4 separate regions of the Homo sapiens genome follow, and regions 1, 2 and 4 are each linked to region 3. Evidence: fine-mapped expression QTL. A gene starts in region 3. Each other region holds a variant in brackets. All regions are shown on one strand. Distances are between the middles of the regions.

Region 1 (4,627 bases), 130 kb after region 3:
AAATACCAATGACATTCTTCATAGAAATAGAGAAAACAATCCTAAAATTTATATAGAACCACAAAAGACCCAGAATAGACAAAGTTATCCTAAGCAAAAAGAAAAAACATGGAGGAATCATATTACCTGACTTCAATTATGCTACAGAGCTATAGTAACCAAAACAGCATGGTACTGGCATCAAAACAGATACATAGACCAATGGAACTGAATATAGAACCCAGAAACAAATGCACACACCTACAGTGAACTCATTTGCAACACAGGTGTCAAGAATATACACTGGAGAAAAGACAGTCTCTTCAAAATATGGTGCAAGAAAACTGGATATCTATATGCAGAAAAATAAAACTAGACCCCTATTTCTCACCATATACAAAAATCAAATAAAAATGGAATAAACACTTAAATCTAAGACCTCAAATTATGAAACTACTACAAGAAAACATTGGGTAAACTCTCCAGAATATTGGCCTGGGCAAAAATTTCTTGAGTAATACCCCATAAGCACAGGCAACAAAAGCAAAAATAGACAAATGGGATCACATCAAGTCAAAAAGCTTCTGCACAGAAAAAAAAAATTAACAAAGTGAAGAGACAACACACAGAATGGGAGAAAATATTTGCAAATTATCCATCTGACAAGGAATTAATAACCAGAACATATAAGGAGCTTGAACAAATCTAGAGAAAAAAAAATCTCATCATCCCATTAAGAAATGGGCAAAAAATTTGAATAGACATTTCTCAAAAGAAGATACAAATGCAAATGCATATGAAAAGGTGCTCAACATCACTGGTCATCAGAGAAATGCAAATCAAAACTACAATGAGATATTATCTCGTTTCAGTTAAAATGGCTGATACCCAAAAGACAGGCAATAGCAAATGCTGGCAAGAATATGGAGAAAAGAGAACCCTCATAGACTGTTGGTGGGCATGTAAATTAGTGCAACCACTATGGAGAACAGTCTGAAGCTTCCTCCGAAAACTACCAATAGAGCCACCATTCCTAGGTATATACTCAAAAGAAAGGAAATCTGTATATTAAAGAGATGCCTGCACTCCAGTGTTGGTTGCAGCACTATTCACAATACCCAAGATTTGGAAGCAATCTGAGAGCCCATCAATAGATGAATAGATTTAAAAAATGTGAGGCAGAGGTTGCAGTGACCCGAGATCACACCACTGCACTCCAGCCTGGGTGACAGAGTGAGACTCCGTCTCAAAAAATAAAAAATTAAAAAATAACTAAAAGAGTATAATTGTATTGTGTGAAACACAAAGGACAAATACTTGAGGTGATGAATATCCTCTTTATCCTGATGTGGTTATTACACATTTCATGCCTGTATTAAAATATTTCATGTAACCTATAAATATATACGCCTACTATCTACCCACAAAAATTAAAAAAACATGGCGTGAACCCGGGAGGCAGAGCTTGCAGTGAGCCCAGATGGTGCCACTGCACACCGTCTCAAAAAAAAAAAAATATAAAAAACAAAATAATATAAAAAATAAAAAACAAAATTGTATGTCTATTAGTAATCTACTACTATGCAACAAGTTACCCCAAAACTCAGAGGCTTAAAGCAACAAACACTTATCATCTCACAGTTTCTGTTGGTCAGAAATCCAGGCATGGCTTATTCGGTCTTTTGGCGATTGATTCCCTCAAACAGCTGCAGTCAAGGTGTTGACCAGTGCCTTAAGGTTTTACTAGTGTGTATCTATTTCCAAGCCCCTTCACATGGTTGCTGGCATGATTCAGTTTCTCCTGTACTGTTGAACAGAGGGCCTCAGTTCCTCACTGGCTGTTGACTGGAGGTCACTCTCAGTTCCTTGCCATGTGGGCCTCCACAAAGGGCAGCTCACAACATGGCAGTTTGCTTTATCAAAACAAGCAAGAGAGAAGGCAAGAGAAAAGGTGCAAGTTACGGTCTTTTGTAACTTAACTCAGAGTAGCAGCCCATCACTTTTGCTATAGTCAATCCAATAGAAACAAGTCACTAGGTCTAGCCAATACTAAAGGGGAAAAGATTCCACAATAGATGTGACTATGACTACCAGATATAGTAGATTATTGGGATCCATATTTGAAGCTGTTAACCACAATCTTAGAGATATACTGAAAAAGTAGTAAGATTTTGAACATCCAATGGTTGGCATTTGTCAAGCTAGTATGCAGAAATCTCTGAAAGAAATGTGATTGGTGTGCTTAATGGATTCTCTAGCAAAGGATAAATATATATCTATTTCAATCTTGGGTCTACAGTTCTCCATAGGACATCGGTTTCCTTTTATCCTACTTAATCCTCCCTGTCTTCCTACCACTCTTTTAGCCCTCCCAATCTGCTTCTTGACTTCCTTTTCCTCAGAGAACCCCTCAGGAGGAGATTAATAAGCACGAAAATTGCCGTGTGCAAGTAGAATTTAAACTTAGTGCATTCAGAATTCTATTAGACATGTACTAACTGATACTTTTCAATTGATTCATCTTAATAAGCCAATCCATTGTCTTTTAAAATGGATAAATAGTGCAGGCTGGCTAGAAGCTGAAGGCAATCTAAAAAAACCCTAGTTCTCAATAACAGGAAAGGGCTGAATATAGCAAAGCAAGTTAGTAAATAACTTTTAAAGACTAAAACTTACCCCGTGCCAAAGATTGAACAAAAATTCCGTCCTATAAACAAGAAAAATAAGGAGTCTATTGATGACTACAGAAATCGACTTATACAGGTCTTCCAACACTATTCTGGAGTTAATGTAAAAAATGAGATCAAGGGAACTTTGTCCTGTCTTCATCAATGGACTAAAATCTGATATAGTAGATCTAATAGAAAAAGTAAATTAGAACAAAAGACTTCGGCATAAAAGAACCATG[G/C]AGTATTGCTGAATACTTTAAATGAGACCTAGAAAACAGACCAAAAAAAGAGGATTTACTAACATCATTTGAAATTACCAATCAATCTGCATCTTCCAGGCATACGGAATGAAAGATCATGATACCTGCAGATATTGCCAAGAAAAGGTCCATAGCAAAAGCCAGTGATCCACCTTATTCAAAAATAAAAAGAAAGTTTTCTTTAAAGATGACCAAATATGGTGCCCAAGGGAACTATTGGTATCACAGAGTTTCTTGTCTTCCATAATCCTCTCAAGGACTATTCAGCCTAATTGTTAAAGGAAAATCATGGAATTCCTTACAGACTCTGATGTAACTATATCTACTGTATAAATAAACAAAGAACACCCAAATGAGAAAAAAATATAGTCAATTTACTCAGAGCTTGCTGCAGCAAGGCAATCAGCCACCATCACTAGCATTCGGCAGAGATTCAAAGGCAGGCAGGAAAGGGTAAAGCTTTGCAATAAAAAACAGGAAAGGCTTCAAGTATGCTCTGATTAGAGGTTGTTGGCATGGAGAAGCTGGGCCAGCTAGAAACGAGGCATCTTATGTGTTTGGTTTGGGAAGTATATCTGGATTTCTCTGGGTGATCCCAAATTGGAAACAGGGACAAAAAATAGGGAAGCTGGCAGTTATTGACCATATTCCAACCATTCTAAAATGTTTTCAGCGTTTTAGAATGGTTTGGCTTCCCAGGCAGGTCGCTGCAGAGATTGTGTTTAGAAAAGTAATTGTTCTTGCAATACAAAGAGATTTTAGATTTTGTGTTTCCTACATGGGTATTCACAGTAATCTGTCTAGTGACAGGGAAACACATTTAATGGGAACTGCCCCCCAAGAATTTTGTAAGTTCTTGGCACTTACAAAAAAAAAAAAACTTCCTTGCCCTTATTACACTCAATATTCTAGGAAAGTAGAAAGGATAAAAGGATGACAAAATTGAAATTAGCCAAACTACTCATAAGAGACTAAATTGGTATATTTAGTCATATCACCAACAGGTTCAAGCTATTTTTCCACAACATAACTTTTCTCATCCATTGCTGAGATACTAAAGATTTCAAAGAAAGACTGTTTTTGAAGCTCATTGGAAAGAACATTACTGAATACCACTGAAAGCACACATTGGTCAAACTTCAAGTAACAACTTGGTCTTGTTTCAGAATTTCAAATATCCTGTTCTACTTGGAAATCTGAACATTTGGGTGATCTCAAGCTAAGCATATCCAGGCATCTTCCAGAAGTACATGACATCTTTCACAGATCTTCAGACAAACAGATGACTTCTTGCTCTAGACAGGTTCTTCCTAAGCCTCACAGAACAAGGTCCAGATGACTGAAACCATAAATAAACTCACATCCCATGTCCCATTTTTTAACCTGCACGCTCCTGTTTTTATTTTCCTAGCTATTTTCTTTATTTTCTCCCAGTTCAAGCTTCTAAATTGCTAACACACATTTGTTACTTTTAATTGATAACATTCCTTAATACTACTCTGTGCATCCCTAATCACTTCTTGGAATGAATCAACATCTAGCTACAATTCACTCATGATATGGCTAAATCACACAAACTAATTGTGTTTATAAACACTTTCCTTTGAGTAACACTTAGTGACTATTACTATCAGTCTCTGCTAATAAATAGTTGGTTTCCTCAAAATATAAATCAACTACTACCCAAATTTTTAGATGGCAAACACCATAACAGGTCAG
Region 2 (4,627 bases), 200 kb after region 3:
AAATGAGAAGAGGGGCCCGCCTCAGGCCCCACAAAAAACTGGGGCATTCCCAATTCAGCCCTTTGCTCCTCAGGGATTTCAGGGACAACAACCCCCACTGTCCCAAGTGCCTCAGGGAATGAGCCAGTTACCACAATACAACAATTGTCCCCCACCACAAGTGGCAGTGCAGCAGTAGATTTATGTACTATACAAGCAGTCTCTCTGCTTCCAGGGGAACCCCCACAAAAAAACCCCACAGGGATATATGGCCCACTGCCTGAAGGGACTGTAGGACTAATCTTAGGAAGCTCAAGTCTAAATCTAAAGGGAGTTCAAATTCATAGTGGTATGGTTGATTCAGACTATAAAGGCGAAATTCAATTGGTTATTAGCTCTTCAATTCCTTGGAGTGCCAGTCCAGGAGACAGGATTGCTCAATTATTACTCCTGCCTTATATTATGGTTGGAAACAGATAAAAACAGGAGGGTTTGGAAGCACTGATCCGACAGGAAAGGCCGCATATTGGGCAAGTCAGGTCTCAGACAGCAGACCTGTGTGTAAGGCCATTATTCAAGGAAAACAGTTTGAAGGGTTAGTAGACACTAGAGCAGATGTCTCTATCATTGCTTTAAATCAGTGGCCAAAAAATTGGCCTAAACAAAAGGCTGTTACAGGACTTCTCGGCATAGGAACAGCCTCAGAAGTGCATCAAAGTACTATGATTTTACACTGTTTAGGGCCAGATAATCAAGAAAGTACTGTTCAGCCAATGATTACTTCAATTCCTGTTAATATGCGGGGTCGAGATTTATTACAACAATGGGGTGCGGAAATCACTATGCCCGCTCCATTATACAGCCCCACGAGTCAAAAAATCATGACTAAGATGGGATATATACCAGGAAAAGGACTAGGAAAAAATGAAAATGGCATTAAAGTCCCAATTGAGACTGAAAGAAATCAAGAAAGAAAAGGAATAGGGTATCCTTTTTAGGGGTGGCCACTGCAGAGCCTCCTAAACTTACCATTCCATTAAGTTGGAAAACAGAAAAACCCGTATTGGTAAATCAGTGGCCGCTACCAAAATAAAAACTGGAGGCTTTACATTTATTAGCAAATGAACAATTAGAAAAGGGACATATTGAGCCTTCATTCTCGCCTTGGAATTCTCCTGTGTTTGTAATTCAGAAAAGATCCAGCAGATGGCGTATGTTAACGGACTTAAGGGCCATAAATGCCGTAATTCAACCCATGCGACCTATCCAAACCGGGTTGCCCTCTCCGGCCATGATCCCAAACGCCGGGCCTTTAATTATAATTGATCTGAAGGACTACGTTTTTACCATTCCTCTGGCGGAGCAGGATTGTGAAAAATTTGCCTTTACTATACCAGCCATAAATAATAACCAGCCACCAGGTTTCAGTGGAAAGTGTTACCTCAGGGAATGCTTAATAGTCCAACTATTTGTCAGACTTTCATAGGTCGAGCTCTTCAACCAGTTAGAGACAAGTTTTCAGACTGTTATATCATTCATTATGCTGATGATATTTTATGTGCTACAGAAACAAGACAAATTAATTGACTTACACATTTCTGTAAGCAGAGGTTGCCAACGCAGGACTGGCAATAGTATCTGATAAGATTCAAACCTCTACTCCTTTTCATTATGTAGGGATGCAGATAGAAAATAGAAAAATTAAGCCACAAAAAATAGAAATAAAAAAAGACATTAAAAACATTAAATGATTTTCAAAAATTGCTAGGCGATATTAATTGGATTCGGCCAACTTTAGGCATTCCTACTTATGCCATGTCAAATTTGCTCTCTATCTTAAGAGGAGAACCAGACTTAAAAGAATATTAACCCCAGAGGCAACAAAAGAAATTAAATTAGTGGAAGAAAAAATTCAGTCAGCGCAAATAAATAGAATAGATCCCTTAGCCCCAGGTTGGGCGCCAGATGAAGGGGTGGCCTGCCCCTCCACACCTGTGGCTGTTTCTCGTCAGGTGGAACGAGAGACTTGAGAAAACAAAGAGACACAGAGACAAAGTACAGAGAAA[G/C]AAAAGTGGGCCCAGGGGACCAGCGCTCAGCATACGGAGGACCCGTGCCAGCACTGGTCTCCGAGTTCCCTCAGTATTTATTGATCATTACCTCTACCATCTCGGAGAGGGGGATGTGGCAGGACAACAGGGTAATAGTGGAGAGAGGGTCAGCAGCAAAACATGTGAACAAATGTCTCTGCATCATAAACAAGGTAAAGAAAAAGGTGCTGTGCTTTTGATGTGCACATATGTAAACACCTCAATGCCTTAAAGAGCAGTATTGCCGCCAGCATGTCTCACCTCCAGCCCTAAGGCGGTTTTCTCCTATCTCAGTAGATGGAATATACAATCAGGTTTTACACTGAGACATTCCATTGCCCAGGGACGAGCAGGAGACAGATGCCTTCCTCTTATCTCAACTGCAAAGAGGCCTTCTTCTTTTACTAATCCTCCTCAGCACAGACCCTTTACAGGTGGCGGGCTGGGGGATGGTCAGGTCTTTCCCTTCCCACGAGGCCATATTTCAGACTATCACATGGGGAGAAACCTTGGACAATACCTGGCTTTCCTAGGGAGAGGTCCCTGCGGCCTTCTGCAGTGTTTTGTGTCTCTTGGTACTTGAGATTAAGGAGTGGTGATGACTTTTAACAAGCATTCTGCCTTCAAGCATTTGTTTAACAAAGCACATCCTACATAGCCCTAAATCCATTAAACCTTGAGTCGACACAGCACACAGCACTTGTTTCTACGAGCACAGGGTTGGGGGTAGGGTTACAGATTAACAGCATCTCAAGGCAAAAGAATTTTTCTTAGTACAGAACAAAATGGAGTCTCTCATGTCTACTTCTTTCTACATAGACACTGTAACAGTCTGATCTCTCTTTCTTTTCCCCACAGATAACAGGGGCAGAGAAAGAACAGAACTACAGCTCCTGTGGCATCACCTGGAGATGAACGATTTCATCTCTAATTATTCAGGTCCTTATTGCTGGTAAACTATGTTTCATCAATGCTACTAATGAAACTGTCCAAAAACAAAAGATATGAAGAAGGTAGGTTAGTCTTAAAGATGTTTAGGTTAGACACTAACCACTGCTCAGCAACTCCCTTCAATTTGAGCTGAAGCTTAGAATCCCATTGGGATGATTCATCTATCAATGCTTACTGAGTGGCTATTCTATGTAAAGCATGGTTTAAAGTGCAGGCAAACAGAAGATTCAGTCCTTGCCTTCATGTCTACAGAGCAAAACGTTAAGAAAATCAATATTTACAAATATGGGATAAATGTCTCACATACAGTGATGCTCAGTAAATTCACTGATTGGACAAATCAATATTGTAATAAAAGTGTATACAAAAACCAGGAGACCTTCCCAAAGCATATTTATCCCTTTGCCATAACACAAATGAGCCTGAAAGTTTACTATTTTGTATACCTGTACATAGAAACCACCCTTAGAAGAATAAACAACTAGTAAATGCCATAACAGATAGTAGCTACCAAGATTATACCACAAAAAGGAGAGCGAGAACGACAGTCAGAAAAAAGATTATTACTCATTTTACGTAAAAGAGTATTTTAATTCTTGTCCTTGGAAGCCATAAAGATTATACATGACTTGGAAATGAGACTGTACCAAATGATGGCCAAAGAAGAATCATCCTTTCTACTCCTTCTCTTTCGTCTGGTCACTCAGAAATATAATATTATCTGTAAAAAAGCCAAAATGTAAATATTAATTTCAGAACTCTTTCTCCATCTCATTCAATAATTCTCCTCTAATACATATAACTTTAGTGCTGTTCATTAAAAGGATTTTAGCCATCTTTTCAAAATATTAAATCACTTGCTATGCTCACGAGAGGTATATATACAGTTGGCATAAGTGGAGCTACAAGTTAGGCACTGGCTGCTTTTCGAACAATTCAGATCTTGTTAGAAGAGGTGGGATATTTCTTGTCTTCCAGTCTTCTCAGAAACAATTTCCTGCAAAAGAACTGGTCACAAAATTGGATGCTTGCAATGGTCAGGCAGATTCCACGACACTAGGCAGCACATCCTCAGAGAAAAGGACAAAAGTGTATCACATTCTACACTCTGGGGGTCTAGAGGAAAGAGTAAGAGTCCATATGTGGCCCTGTTAGCAATGACAGGATTTACTTACGTTTTTAACTTTAAAAATTCAAATAGAAGAAATTTTATTTTTAAATTACAATACAGAATAACTTTTTGTTTTTCCTTTGGAGATGGAGTCTCTGTCACCCAGGCTGGAGTGAAGTGGTGCAATCTCAGCTTACTGCAACCTCTGCCTCCTGGGTTCAAGCGATTCTCCTGCCTCAGCCTCTCCAGTAGCTGGGATTATAGGTGTGCACCACCATGCCTGGCTAACTTTTGTATTTTTAATAGAGACAGGGTTTCACCATGTTGGCCAGGCTGGTCTTGAACTCCTGACCTCAAGTGATCTGCCCGCCTTGGCCTCCCAAAGTGCTGGGATTACAGGCATGAGCACCGCACCTGGCCCAGAATAATTTTAATATACCAATTCTTGGGAACATTTTATGAATCAACATCACAGAGTTAGCATTTTTATCCAAAAATA
Region 3 (4,627 bases):
ACTTAGCATTTCCAACTTGATGTCACATGAAGATTGCCAAAGTTAAATTTCAGTTTTACTCTTCAATAAAACTTTTTTCTTTATTTTTAGGACTCAGCCTAGTGAAAAAAATCTAATTTGACTCACTAAGCAGAGAATTTGTTATCCCAGTCTGCAATAACTGATTAAAAATTAGTGATCTCATGGTTTTTTCCCCAAAAAACAATGTGTGGGTATTTCCTTACAATTGTGTGACTAGAAGCCCCTTTCTTATTATTTTCCCAAAGCAATGGGCATGGGCCCCCAATGCTATTGACTTCATCTCTAGTAACCCCTCAGTTGCATTTGCCATTGCAGATATTGGCTTTTTTTTAGCAAGGTTTCTGATAATGTCGAGTTTAAGAGAAGCATTGCAGTGCGAAGCCTTGAACAAGAATTTAGATTTTTCTTTAGATTTTCTAGCAGAGCAGAGGTGTCCCACAATGCATCAGTCAGAGTACTACCCCCAAAACTTCTGTGGACATCCTTTTATACTATGACATTTTCTTCTCTTTTGATGATATTTGAAAGATCTCTTATACCTCTTTGTTATAAAAGATTCACTTGCTATCCAAGTGTATAGATTTTATTAAGTTATTCAGAAAGTCTCTGTTAAAAACTTTCTAAATAATAATAACCAAGTCTCCTGATTCCCATACTTCCTAACATAGCTGGCATAATTGGCCATATTTATTGTCCAATAAATATATGGATCCTTCTGGACAGCAATCTAGGGTCTAGAAGTAATTACCTTGTGACCAGATAAATCAGGTTCAATGAGATTTTTCAAAAACACAGAGGACTATCCAAGTAGAACAAAACACAACTTTAATGTTCCAAAGCCCTCCAAATGTACATGTCTTTTGATCCAGCATTTATATTTCTGATAACTTAGCCCAAGAAAGTTATTAAGGACATGTAAAAGGATGCATGCACTTAGCTGTTCACTGTGCATTGGGAAGATAGTTAGAAGAGTTTTAGAAAATAGTTAGAATACTAAGGATTTATGTTTAAGATGCTGAGTATCACGCTATTGAAATTACAAGCATTATCTTGCTCATTTCTCGGAACAATCCTATGTGGTATTTACTATAATTACTCCTATTTATAGATAAAGAAATGGAAGGTAAAGAGACTCAGTAACTTAATCAAGGATGTTCAGCTAGTGAAGGTCAGCTCCAGGAATCAAAAGCAGGACTGATTTTTAAAACTTTGTTCTTGTCCACCACACTTTACTAGAAGATTTGTGGTTATGCAATTGTTAAAGAAATAATATACTTTTACACCTGAATAAATAAATCATATAGTTTTACACCTGAATGCTATGCACATATTAAATAATACATTATCAAAATCTATATTTTGACATGAAAAGATATATATAACATAGTGTTAGCTTAATCTTGAGCAGATAGATTGCAAAACAATATGTACAATATGTTCCCATTGTTCTTTGTGAACCAGTGTTTTTCTGTCTATCTATCTATCTATCCATCTATCTTTCTATCTACCTACTCATCTCGAAAGGATACACCCTGAGGTGCTAGCAATGACTATAACTAAATGTACAAGGTTATAAATGGTTTTGTTTTCTCAATTTTCCTTGTTAATATTTTCCAGCCATTTTTTTGTCATGAGCACAGTAGTTTTCATAGTAGGGAAAATAAAAGCAAATTTTCAAATTTAACACGAAATTAAAAACTCCTTGACAATAGGACTTGAGTATTGTTCACCCCAGCCCACTGCTGTATCCAGCAGAGTGCCATGTTCAAGAAACACTGAAGAGCCACCATGAGGTCTGGAAGGTGAGCAGGTGGTGCCAGAGAGGAGTCCATGATAAAGGGGAATGAGCAGAGCTCCAGCAAATGGAGCAAATGGAACAGCAAGAACCTGCTCATTCATATTAGTGTCTTCAACTGGATTTCTTAACATTTTTAACTTGACATAATTTCAGACTTGCAGAAATGTTGTAAGGAAAGTACAAATAACTTCCAGCTACCTTTTATCCAGATTCAATGTTTGTTAAAATTTTACTACATTTCTCTTCCCACTGTATTTCAAGGAGATTTAGACACAGAGGAAGGGTGAATCTGTGTTGAGGTATTTTGTTTTCCAAATTGTCCTTAAAATGTTCCTCTGCATTAGAACTCTCCTGGCAGGAAGTCTGCTCTTGCCACCACTAGGGCTAGAGAGTCTCTTCCCTTCTTTGCCCCGCCTGCTCCCTTTGCCAAGAACCCCACTGAACAGGAAGAGGTATTTCTTGGGGATGCTACCAAGGCAGAGACTGTGAAGAAGGAAGAACGTTGCTTGGGCAAAAGGAGCATATTCTCAGGAGACGGGGCCCCTGCCTGCCACACCAAGCATTAGGCCACCAGGAAGACCCCCATCTGCAAGCAAGCCTAGCCTTCCAGGGAGAAAGAGGTGAGTCTGTCTGTCTGTCTTGGCTGCATGGACTGTTGACCAATGCCAAGACCTTCAGGGATGCCTGTCCTGTCTGTCACCTACCCCTGGTATTTGGAAGACTGAGGCTTCTGACAACTTAAGTCAGTATGGTGAAGGCTACAGACTAAGGTCCTTGGGAACAAGGGTCATTTCAAGGATAAGGGTTCTCAAAATACAGGAGAGGGTTTAATTATTAGACAGAATTTAGGAGGCCACAAATAGGGCAAGGCTGAGGCCTGGAGTAGGGAATGAGTGAAGGAGAGGCAGTATGCCAAGTTCCAAGGCTCCAATCAATACATGATTCTTTCTGTGTTCGCGGCCCACGCTGGGTCACCTCCTGGTACCTGTCAATGTCATGCCTGTCTTCCAAGCCTGCCTTGCTTTGGGTACTCTGAGCGAGAGGCTGGGATATGTCCTAGTGAAAAGCAGCCTTGTACCCGAATTCTGATGCTGCTGTGCTCTAATCTTCACAGGCCCCTGCAGCTCCTTCATCATGAACTGGCACATGATCATCTCTGGGCTTATTGTGGTAGTGCTTAAAGTTGTTGGAATGACCTTATTTCTACTTTATTGTGAGTATTTGAGCAACCTCTTGCCCCAGACTTCATGTTGTCTTGCTCATTGACTCTTCTCTCAGAATGCATGGTTGTGTGTAAAGGTTACATATCCAAGTCTTTCCACCTGAGACTAACTGACCCAACCTGAGGTCAATTGGCAATGCCTTTCTCACTCCCCAGCACACACAGTGGCCCAGGCTCCTTGGTCTACCTTGGAGATATAGAACTTACCAGTTTCTGATGGTTAGAACGCCACGCAAAGCTTTTGCTAGTAGAGTATTATTTGGGTGATCTCAGCTGAAGTACTTGGCAGCGCTTGTTATTGTTGGCAAAATCTAAAATACAGCTCCAGTTCAACCCAATGACAAGGCCATGGTAAGAGCTGAAGTATAATGTAACAGGATTTAACTGAGAAAGAAATTTCTCTTTGTATACATATAAATTAATTCATCCAAATGCCTAGTTAAAGAAGCCTCCTATGAAAGGATTTTACTGCAATCAGAAACTAGAATCTTCTCTAGCCCCAGAAGCCAGTAGGGAAAATAAATGAGGAAGGAAACGTGAGTGGGAGGCAGTAGTTAGCTAAGAGGTGTCTTCCTCATGATGCAATCTGAAGGTGCAATTCCTATCATGTCAGACAGCAGGACAGAAATATGAATAAGGGAACGTATTCACAAAACCACATTTATGCATCTTCACTGAGTCAGAGAGTTCAGTATTTCCCACTAATAGTCACAGTACCCTAGCAGCCCCTGTGCTGATACTTGTTTGTCATATTCATCATGCAGTCACATTTGGGGCTGAGCCAACAGCTGATTTTCTTTTCAGTCCCACAGATTTTTAACAAAAGTAACGATGGTTTCACCACCACCAGGAGCTATGGAACAGGTAATCTGCATGGTGGTAAATCTTCTCCCCATCCTCCTGCTACTTCTATGCTGAATTCCTAGAGACCTTCCACACAGCCTCCTTTCCCAAGAAATTCTTTTGTACAAAGGGTCCATAAAGATCTTCTAATTAATTCCCTTTCTTTTACATATGAGAAAACCAAGAGCAGACTGAGGGAAATTTCTGATCCTTAGTTTTTCTCCTGGATATGGGGATGATTTATATCTAATCATTGTAATAGAATGTGAAAGTGCTTAATAGCCAGTAGCTATGGGAGATAGAGAGATGAGTGGGGCATGGTTCTCCTCTCCCGATTAAACCAGCTTCCTTCTGAAGCCTTTCCCAACAACATCCTCTCACTTCCTCTTAAGACACCTATTACTACTGACATCGTTAGGAGAAAGACCGTTTCTCATTTATCTTAGTATCAACAGAGGCAACCCAATACAGTGAGCTGTATGGAGAAAATACTCATAAAATATGTATTGAGTCCTTAAGTTATAATCTCAAAGTAGTTTCTGATGAAAACCAGGCTATTACATCTTAGAGTCTATAAACGGGGTACTGAAATAAAAAGTGAATGCCAATTTGTTTCATTAAGATAAATGTAAGTAACTAATTTGATGTCAGAGTAAAGTGGTCTTCAACCACAATGGACAAATAACTGGCAGCCCAATTAGATGTTTGACCAGCCTCTGAAGCCACTGCGGCTGCCTGCTCAG
Region 4 (4,000 bases), 120 kb before region 3:
GTCATTGACTATTCCATGAGGTGTTTTCTTCTTGATCATCCTACGAACCAGAATTGTTAGGCTCATTTTAAAGATGAAGGAGCTGAGTGCCAAGAACACCTAAGTGATGGACTTCAGCTCAGAAAGAGAGGAAGAGACACAGGTAGAATAAGAAACCATGTCTCAGGACCCCCACCAGCTCAGGCCTCTTCTCCTCGTCCTTTTCCCCAAGCCTCACAGCTGGGATCCTCCCCTCATCGGAGGCCTCCATACTCACGCGCTCCAGGACAGGGCTGACCAGGAAGGCTGGGCCCAGCAGGAACTGACTGTCTATGTCCCATGTCACCTGGTCTGACACAAACCTGGAAAGGGAAATGAAGGTGCCCAACAGAGCCCAACAGAGCCCCAGCCCGACACTCTGAAGAAGCTCCTCAAGTTCAGATCCAAGTCGGAAATACAGCTGCCCCTGAGCCATCCTTGCTTTGTTCCTAGGCCTAGCTTCATCAGGAGCACCCAGCCTCTGCTTTCCCCATGGGATGTGCCTCAAACTTCAGAAATGCTGGGATGTAGATGTGTTCTCTCCTGTAAAATATTACCTCATTTCTTAACCATGGCACATTTTAAATGTGAGGATGGCCCTCGTCCCTCAATTCTCTTGCTGAAATCCTTCTTTTGTGACCTGGGTCCATATAACAAAACTGCTACATAAGATAGGCCTTTGCACAACCAAATTAGAATGAAACTATTCTATGCTGTACTGCATCATTTCAATTTTCGTCATTCAATAAATACCCTTTTTTTATGACCTACGGTATGTATAACACTGTGCTAAAGACAGTAATCAGGTATACTTTGTGTCTGAAGAGCTCATGTCAAAAGGCCATCATGTCTTTAATTTGGAAGCGTTGTGTATATCAACTGCTACCACATAGAATGCAATAAGTCATCCATTAGTCATCGGGATCCCTGCTGGACACTCACTCATGGAGCAGAGGCCGCACAACAGTGACGCCCTCCGTGTGGGCCTTTTGCATCAAGGTATACAGATATGGCAACAGGGTGTATCTGGTCTGCAGGACATTTCTGGAAATATTCACAAAAGCAGCATCCCAGGACACAGGGTCTTGTCTCTAAAGGAGAAAGAGAACAGTGTTGGGAGCTCGCCCTGGAATTTCTAGGGGATTTAAGAAGGTCACTAAAAGCATACTCCAATTGAAGATCACTCACAGCTAAACAAAAGAAAACTATACATGAGGCCCAGAGAATATTCTTAATAGACCGGAAAGAGTCACCAAAGCTCTCCTAAGACAGCTGATAAAATTTCACTGTAAGACATTCTTTTTGGAACATTTGGTAAAATTCTGCCTGAAATACAGGAAAAAAATAATAATCTAAAGCACAATGAGGAATATGGTTCATTGAGACACCAGGTCTTCACAATTTTTAAGGGTGCAGTGGCTCACGCCTGTAATCCCAGCACTTTTGGAGGCTGTCGAGTGGATCGCTTGAGCCCAGGAGTTCGAGACCATCCTGTGAAATATGGCAAGATCCCATTTCTACAAAAAATCAAAAATTAGGTAGCCACGCTGGGATGTGCCTTTATCCCAGCTATTCAGAAGGCTGACGTGGGACAATCGCTTTAGCCCCAGAGGTGGAGGCTGCAGTCAGCCATGATTGGGACACTGCACGATTCAGCCTGGCCAACAGAGTAAATCCCTGTTTCAAAAAAAAAAACAAAACAAAACAAAACAAAAAAAAACACCTTTTTTTAAAGATATCCCAGGAAATAGAGACTGCATTACTTTTAGCACAGAAATGGAGACTGTCTTTCAAGTGACATAAAACAGTGGAGGTAGAAGCCACTGTCCTACCCTGGTCCCAATGGTATTGTGGTTTCTTGAGAAGGGGTAAAAGGCCCCCAGCTGCATCCAGCGAACACACATCTCGTACTCAGCGTCTTGAAAGAACCCACAGATATCTGCTCCCGTCTGAAACAAGAGGAAATAAAAGGAGCCTGCTGATGATTTCTGAAAGATGTCCCCACCTTCTTGGTGCTTAGGAGGATCCCAAGGACACTCACATAGGATATGCC[A/G]AAGAGGCTGAACTCCATCATGCCTGCAACGAGAAGCACAGCTGTGTCACACCAGGCTCTCATGATCTGCCTCCTCACCTCTTCCCTAAGGATCCCAACTCCCTGCCCTGTCGGCAAAGGCCCTGGGGAAGGACCCACGCACCAATGATAGACTTCTTCAGCTGATCCCATGCGGCCGTGTTGTCTCCCAGCCAATGTCCTGCCCAGCGGCCAGAAGAGGGAAATGTGGAGCGGGTGATGACGACCCCTCGCTGTCCCGTCACCTCCTGCACGGCTCTGCTTGGAAGGGAACAGGAGGTGAACTGAGGCAACAGCCAGGGAGTAAAGGCCATAGAGCTTCTGCTCCCAGAGCCCTTGAGCCTAGTCAATGTTTGCTGCGTGACTGGAGGGAACATGGGACTCTGAGCTGTAATAGGAGTTCCACTGATCCCAGATGATGGAGATAATGAGTCACGTGTTCTCACAGTGCTTTACAAAGAACTTCACTGTAGCAGCCTCACTGGAGTACTCCCAAAATACTAAGGAATTACTATGTCTTGCTAATGGTTTCCTCAATACTTAGTTTTCTATATTTGAGAAGGAACACAGTGAAGGTTATAAGATCCTCTTAGAAGAATTCATACTATTCATTGAGCTTGCAAAGCAGGACTGTGCTAATTCAGTACAATACCAGTTACCCTCCACCAAGAATGGCCAAAAATACAAACATCTCCAAAGATGATTCACTTTGAAATGAACGGGAGAGATGCCCAGTCCTCTGTGTTCCCTTCACCTCCTGTAACTAAAGCTATTGTTCCACTGGCTGCCCTGTGTGACCATTATGGTGTCTCCATGTGAGTCTTTCCCACTAGGATCATTAAGTTTTTCACTGGTGGGACCATGCCTTATTTAAATCTGTCCTCCTACTTTTAATCACAGGGCCTGGCTCCATGTCAATGAGCATTTGTTTAATAAATAAGAATCATTACAGAGTTATGAGAATCTTCTTAATCCTTAGAAATGGAATGAAAGGAAAACTAGGGTAGCTATGTCAGTCACTGGCAATCGCTATAGGTTGTGACAGCTGGAGAAGGGAGACGGAGACTCACTCGTATGTGGGTCTGGTCTGGGACCACCCATACAGGTTGTGCACGTTGTAGTGCTGCACCAGGGAGCCGTCTGGGAGGATCTGCTGACTCTCCATACAAAGGGTCTTGCTGCTCAGGCCCCTGTCCCTGGACTCCAAATCTGAGGAGGAAGAACTGGCGAGGTGAAACCCAGCCCTGATTCTGTTTCTCCCTGACTTCTCTTCAAGGGACTGGGCCCTGGATCTTAAGACTAACTTCAGTCCTGCCTGTGTCGCTCTCCATCTCCCCAGAGACATGAGCACAGCGCCCCCAGCTCTGAGCTGCATTGGCGCCTGCTGTGTTTCCAACATCAAGTTCACTGAAGGAAGCAGAGGTGTCAGGAAGAACGTACAGCTGTCAAACACTACATGACGGGCTCTGATTTAGGCTTTTGACTTCCAATTATTTCCATAATTCTATGAAGAAGATCTCATTATCCGTCTTTTACAATTTAGCAAACTGAGATTTGGAAATATCACATAATCTGTGAAAAGTCACAAAACTCCTAGAGAGAACAATTTCTGGAGCCAAGATATGAACCCAAGTGTAACTCCAAAGTCCATCAGCTCCATGATAAGGGGAAGCCAGTAATTTCCACTCACTGATGACACAAGAAATTCCTGTGATGGAATTCACACAAGCCTAAAAACTAAGAAACTCAGCTGTGAGAACCCTTTGTGCCATGAGCTCTGCTAAGTGCTTTCTGGACAAATTTCAAGAAATTTGCTCAATGAGTCTAGTCACTTGCCCATGCCCGGCTGGGTAAAGCACGTGCAGAGCTTTTGTCTCTGGTCCCCAGTAAACCACAGCAGCCATGAGGATG

Evidence for each region.
Region 1: its variant is fine-mapped to the expression of CLEC5A in whole blood (TOPMed, PIP above 0.99).
Region 2: its variant is fine-mapped to the expression of CLEC5A in whole blood (TOPMed, PIP above 0.99).
Region 4: its variant is fine-mapped to the expression of CLEC5A in whole blood (INTERVAL, PIP 0.96).

What each region holds. Positions count from the first base shown.
Region 1 is chr7:141,814,879-141,819,505 of GRCh38, reverse strand. No RefSeq gene overlaps it. Among named protein-coding and RNA genes, the nearest start is that of PRSS37, 24 kb to the left of the region's middle. The variant G/C (reference allele first, on the strand shown) is at 2,888.
Region 2 is chr7:141,749,422-141,754,048 of GRCh38, reverse strand. It overlaps SSBP1 (single stranded DNA binding protein 1), which reads right to left. Exons shown (of 7, transcript NM_003143.3): 7 at 3,561-3,738. The coding sequence ends at 3,695. Among named protein-coding and RNA genes, the nearest start is that of TAS2R3, 12 kb to the left of the region's middle. The variant G/C (reference allele first, on the strand shown) is at 2,046.
Region 3 is chr7:141,944,619-141,949,245 of GRCh38, reverse strand. It overlaps CLEC5A (C-type lectin domain containing 5A), which reads left to right and starts at 2,272. Exons shown (of 7, transcript NM_013252.3): 1 at 2,272-2,439; 2 at 2,934-3,032; 3 at 3,846-3,905. The coding sequence starts at 2,954. RefSeq lists an enhancer at 2,591-3,790.
Region 4 is chr7:142,063,682-142,067,681 of GRCh38, reverse strand. MGAM (maltase-glucoamylase) reads right to left here. Exons shown (of 71, transcript NM_001365693.1): 37 at 3,160-3,298; 38 at 2,214-2,347; 39 at 2,060-2,094; 40 at 1,851-1,967; 41 at 961-1,109; 42 at 257-341. Among named protein-coding and RNA genes, the nearest start is that of MGAM2, 46 kb to the left of the region's middle. The variant A/G (reference allele first, on the strand shown) is at 2,072.